Regions from separate parts of the Homo sapiens genome. Here region 1 is linked to region 2. Evidence: fine-mapped expression QTL. Tissue or cell type: whole blood. Region 2 holds a variant in brackets; the other region holds the start of a gene. Each region is shown on its reference strand, or each on the opposite one.

The links. PIP is the estimated chance that this variant, and not a neighbour inherited with it, causes the effect.
Region 1: it holds the start of APRT, and the variant in region 2 is fine-mapped to the expression of APRT in whole blood (TOPMed, PIP above 0.99).

What each region holds. Positions count from the first base shown.
Region 1 is chr16:88,810,369-88,813,261 of GRCh38, forward strand. It overlaps APRT (adenine phosphoribosyltransferase), which reads right to left and starts at 1,560. Exons shown (of 5, transcript NM_000485.3): 1 at 1,452-1,560; 2 at 1,182-1,288; 3 at 55-188. The coding sequence starts at 1,531. RefSeq lists enhancers at 1-429, 1,935-2,619, 2,620-2,893 and silencers at 1,313-1,712, 1,963-2,222.
Region 2 is chr5:130,839,434-130,842,341 of GRCh38, forward strand. All of the region lies in intron 1 of LOC107986449 (a long non-coding RNA gene), which reads right to left. Among named protein-coding and RNA genes, the nearest start is that of HINT1, 320 kb to the right of the region's middle. The variant CA/C (reference allele first, on the strand shown) is at 1,721.

The DNA of each region.
Region 1 (2,893 bases), not on the chromosome of region 2:
AGTGGCCACGGTGGCCTGGCCCTGCCCTTCCTCTGGCCACCCCAGCCCTCTTACCTTCCCGTACTCCAGGGAATAGGAGGCCCACAGAGTGGGGCCTGGCAGCTTCCCCCGCTTTCGGATGAGCACGCAGCCCAGTCCAAGCTCCTGGGCCAGGGAGGGGCCAAAGAGGAAGCCTCGGGAGTCTAGGCCTGTCAGGGTAAGTGACAGGAGTGACTCGGCAGCATGGGAATCCCCAGGGGCCAGGGTTGGCCGGTGGCAAGGGGTACCTGGTTGGCTCCCAGCTGAAAGGCCAGTGACATGCACCATTTAAGGAATGTTACCCATCACCTACCCGGAGCTGCTTCCAGGTCAGAGTGCAGACCTGGGTCTGTCTTTTAAGGGACCACTTCTTAGCTGTGTGTTCCTAGGGGAGTCACCACCCCTCTCTCTGAGCTGAGCAGCCCATCTGTAACTGGGCTGGTAGAAACCTGACAGGCCTCAGCTTACTCTCAAAGGCAGCTCTGCACCAGGGCTTCTGTCTAAAAAGGGAGTCTCTCGAGGTGGCCTGAGCTGTGATGGTTGGGGGACGCTCAGGGAAACCCTGCCCCGGCCTGGCAGGAGGTCAGGGAGGGCTTCCTGCAGGAGGTGAGAAGGGAGCTCTGGCAGTGTTGTGGCTCCAGCAAGAGCTGGCGCTTTCCTCAGGGCAGTGTCCAGGGAGTGGGCTGTCACACCCTAGGAGAGGCAAGACGGCCAGGAACACTCTGTTCTCCCTGGGCCACCTCTTGGGCTCTCCCGGAGGCCTCCAGGCCTCCCTTCCCTGGGTGGGCATTCCGTGATCTTCACCAGGGAAGGCCTGGCTCGTGGCAGGCGCTCAATACCAGCTCGCAGAAGGAACAAGAAGCAAGGCAGCTGGGCCCTGTGGATTCAGCTTGGGCACTCCAGGGAGACCAACTGACCCGGCAACTCGGTCACGCCTGTCCTGGGCTGGGGACCCGGAACCTGCGGGAAGGACGCCTGCACAGCGCGGCGGCCTCGGGGGCTCAATCTCACAACCCTTCCCGGGCGACCCAAGCACGGCGCCCGTCCCGGCGCCCCCTGAAGCACCCCAAAGGCCCTCCCCCAAGCAGACGCGCAGAGCCCACGTGCTGCCCTCGGCGCGCGCAGAGGCGGAAGCGCCCTAGATGCGGCCACTGGGCACTCGCCTGCGATGTAGTCGATGCGGCCCCCGTGGGTCGCCTTCAGGTGTCGCGCCAGGAGGCCGATGGCGGCGCGGAAGGAGGCGGGGTCCTTCAGGACGGGCGAGATGTCCCTGGACCCAAGGACAGGCCTGGTGACGCCGGGGCCGAAGGAGGGCAGGGCCCCGGGGGCGAAAGACGAGGGTTCCCGCCCCGCCCGCCCGGAGGTCGCGGGCCACGCGCTCCCATCCGTAGGCCCGCAGGTCGGGGCGCCACGAGGGCGGCCTGTGCGTGCACCTGAATACCACGCCTGGGGTGGGGAAGTCGGGGAAGCTGCGGATCCGCTGCTCAACCAGCTGCAGCTCGGAGTCGGCCATGGCCGCGTGCGAAGAGCCAGCGGCAGCCCGAGCGCGCCTGCGCGGGGACGGGCGGGACCGCCACGAGGGGTGGGGCATCCCCGGAGGGCGGAGCGTGGGTGAGGGGCGGGGCATCCGTCGCCGGAAGCCTGTACCGTATTTCATGGACTCCTAGGCGCCATCGATTTTAAGACGCGCTCGCATTCCACGCACCACTGAGCAGAACGTTCGAACCGGACAAAAGTGCGAGTCAAGGCGCCCTTCCTTGTCTCGGGCTACGCTTCTGACTGCAGCCAGGCAGCTGTGGGCCGGGGCCTTGGCGGCTGGAGGAGGGGCGTGAGCTGGTCTCGCCCACGCACCTGGCGCGCGTACGGGCCGCGCCCTTTCTCCTTTATTGGCCGAGATCCCCACGCTGCGCGCGGGAGGCTGGCGCGCGGGGTGGAGAAGGGCGTGAGGAAGCGGTCCAAGTAGCAGGAGGGCGGTGCAGGGCCCGGAGGGAGCAGCCCAGGGCGGAGGCGGCGGGCCTGGGCTGGACCGGCCGGGGGCGCTGGCCTCTCGCGGATGGGCCCTGCCGTTGAGGCGGCTCTTCCCCGCCCGGACCCGGGGGAGGGAGGCCGGAAGGTGTGGCCAGGCCAGGGCGCGCATCCGCGAGGGCAGAAGCCCTTCTGTCCGCCTGCAGAGGCCAGGTGACCCCTTAGCCTTGGGGTGGGGAGCTGTGAACCCCCTGGCCGCCCGAGGACTGGTACCCAGGGGGTTGTGTGAGGCATAACTCCCCCCAAACACAATTTCCTTTCAAGAAAATCCCCAGAGCTAAAATGCCTTGTGCTCTATTCCAAGACTTTTCTTCATTTCGCAACTTTTTTTTGAGAAGGACTCTCGCTCTGTCGCCCAGGATGGAGCACAGTGGCGCCATCTGGGCTCACTGCAAGCTCCACCTCCTGGGTTCCGGCCATTCTCCCGCCTCAGCCTCCCGAGTAGCTGGGACTACAGGAGCCCGCCACCACGCCCTGCTAATTTTTTGTATTTTTAGTAGAGACGCAGTTTCACTGTGTTAGCCAGGATGGTCTCGATCTCCTGACCCCGTGATCTGCCCGCTTCGGCCTCCCAAAGTGCCGGGATTACAGGCGTGAGCCACCGCGCCCGGCCCATCATTTCGCAACTTTTACAATTCAGCTTTGGCCTGGCAGTTACTGCAGAAGGGAAAACCCACTCAGTGGAAGGCAGCCCCCAGGAGCCTTCGGAGGGGGAGGCCGGAGGCTGCATGCGGCTGCTGGGGCCCCGGTTCCAGGGCGGGTGGGGGACCCATCGTCTGATGCCAAGGGGCGTGGTAGGGGCGGCTGCCTCGCAGTGTGCGGTGGTCAGGGCTGGCAAGGCCTGGGGCCT
Region 2 (2,908 bases):
ATAGTATAAATATACAACATTTTACTTTTAAATGAACATACCATCTGTTTTATTATGGATGGACAATTGGATTGTTTCCATTTGGTGGCCATTACAAATAATGTTTCTGTGAACATTATCATCATGTCTTCTGGAGTACATGAGAATGACTAATAAGTATGCAAATATTCAATTTTAGTAGATAAGTCAAACAGTTTTCTAAAGCAACTGTACCAATTTGCATGCCATCAACAATGTATGAAAGTTACAGTAGTTCCACACCTTCACCAGTATGTAGTATTATCAATCTTATTTTTAGCTATTCTGAGGTATAGTGGCATCTAATTGCTGTTTTAATAACATGTAATATAAAAGACATAAGACAGAAGTTAACATACCAATTCTCCAAAAAACATGTTTCAATTTCTAACAGCCCTCATGGGCAAAAGTTTTTTATTAAATACACGATGCTTATGTAAAAAAAAAGACAAATTTTCTCTTACATTTTGTGTCATTGAAAAAAAGGAGAGTCTAAATTACTGGATTTTTATCTACTATTCTCTGTAAGAACTTAATGATAATGAATACCCGCATGATGCCTGATCCCCCGGATCTCACAGTCAGGAAAGAGATGCAGTCAACGAACAGGCGTTAACAAGGCAGTCTGATAAGCACTTATGGACGCATATAGGGTGGCACTGATCCTGTCTCAGGAGGTCTGGAAATTGAGTCTAAGTTTAGACATAAAGAAAAAGTAAGCTCCAGATGGGTGCACAAGTGAGGATAAGGTAATTAACGACAAAGGGAACAGCTTATAAAAAGGTCTAAGCGCATGGCTGAAGCCCAAAGTGAATGACAGTAAGAAGTATCTGAAGATAAGACTAGAGAGCTTGCCAGGGGCTGGATTACTGGGGCATCTGTAAGCCACATAAGGAATATGAACTTTATTATTCGGGGTGCTACAAGAAGATTTCTTGAAAACAAGTTATGTGACCAGATTTGCAATTTACAAAGAGTTTTCTGGCTACAATATGTAGAATACATTGCTGTGACAAGCAGATAGACCCAGAAGTGGGGGTGCTAATTTGGAGGCTGCGGCAACAATGTGGGAGAGACATGATAGGGTCATTTAGGGATATCTATTAGTAGAGTGGCAGTATGAATGGGATCTTAGGGAGTAGGTCCAAGATTAAGGGATGACTTCAAGATAAAATCAACAGAACGTAATGATGGAGTCAAAATTTGATGGAAAAAGAATAAGAAGCCAAGAATGACCCACAAGGGATTTCAAAAAGATGGCAGCCTGTCATCCCCTCCTCCCCCACCATCATGACCACCAATTCCCTGAGACACTAACATAAATGAAATAAATAAGATGGAATGTGAATATATCTCAAGTGCAGCTGAGGTCAAAAGTTTTAGAAAACTGGCATGGGGGGTTGGCATGCACAGTGGGAGAGACTCTGTGAGGTTGCTTAGGCTCATGGGCACAGGCACCTAACTTATCCATTATTTCTGCAACCACATCATGCTGGATGTTGCTAGATCCCTCAGTGCCACAGCCTAGCATAAAAAATGGCCCAGTGAGTGACAGAATTGTAGGTGCCTTTAAGTAGGTGATGACATATGTTTATCACAGCACAATTCACAATTGCAAAACATGAAATCAACCTAAGTGCCCATAAATCAAAGAGTGGATAAAGAAAATGTGGTATATATGCCATGGAATACTCTTCAGCCA[CA/C]AAAAAAAAGAATAAAATAATGTGTTTTGCAGCAACCTGAATGGAACTGGAGGCATTATTTTGTTTGTTTGTTTGTTTGTTTTTTCTTTTAAGTTCTGGGATACATGTGCAGAATGTGCAGGTTTGTTACACAGGTATACATGTGCCATGGTGGTTTGTTGCACCTATCAACCCATCATCTAGGTTCTAAGCCCCACATGCATTAGGTATTTGTTCTAATGCTCTCCCTCCCCTTGCCCCCCACTCCCCAACAGGCTCCAGTGTATGTTGTTCCCCTCCCTGTGTCCATGTGTTCACATTGTTCAACTCCCACTTATGAGTGAGAACATGTGGTATTTGGTCTTCTATTCCTGTGTAGTTTGCTGAGGATGATGGCTTCCAGCTTCACCCATGTCCTTGCAAAGGACATAATCTCATTCTTTTGTATGGCTGCATAGTATTCCATGGTGTACATATGCCACATTTTCTCTATCCAGTCTATCATTGACGGGAATTTGGGTTGGTTCCAAGTCTTTGCTATTGTAAATAGTGTTGCAATAAACATACGTATGCATGTGTCTTTATAGTAGAATGATTTATAATCCTTTGGGTATATACCCAGTAATGGGATTGCTGGGTCAAATGGTATTTCCTTGGTTCTAGATCCTTGAGGAATCACCACAATGTCTTCCATAATGGTTGAACTAATTTACACTCCCACCAACAATGTAAAAGCGTTCCTATTTCTCTACAGCCTTGCCAGCATCTATTGTTTCCTGACTTTTTAATAATTGCCATGCTAACTGGCATGAGACGGTATCTCATTGTGGTTTTGACTTGCATTTTTCTAATGATCAGTGATGATGAGCTTTTATTCATATATTTGTTGGCTGTGTAAATGTCTTCATTTGATAAGTGTCCATTCATATCCTTCGCCCACTTTTTGAGGGGGTTGTTTGTCTCTTATTGTAAATTTAAGTTCCTTGTAGATTCTAGATATTAGACCTTTGTCAGACAGGTAGATTGCAAAAATTTCTCCCATTCTGTAGGTTGCCTGTTCACTCTGATGATAGTTTCTTTTGCTGTGCAGAAGCTCTTTAGTTTAATTAGATCCCATTTGTCAATTTTTGCTTTTGTTGCAATTGCTTTTCGTGTTTTATCATGAAGTCTTTGCCCATGTCTATGTCCTGAATGGTATTGCCTAGGTT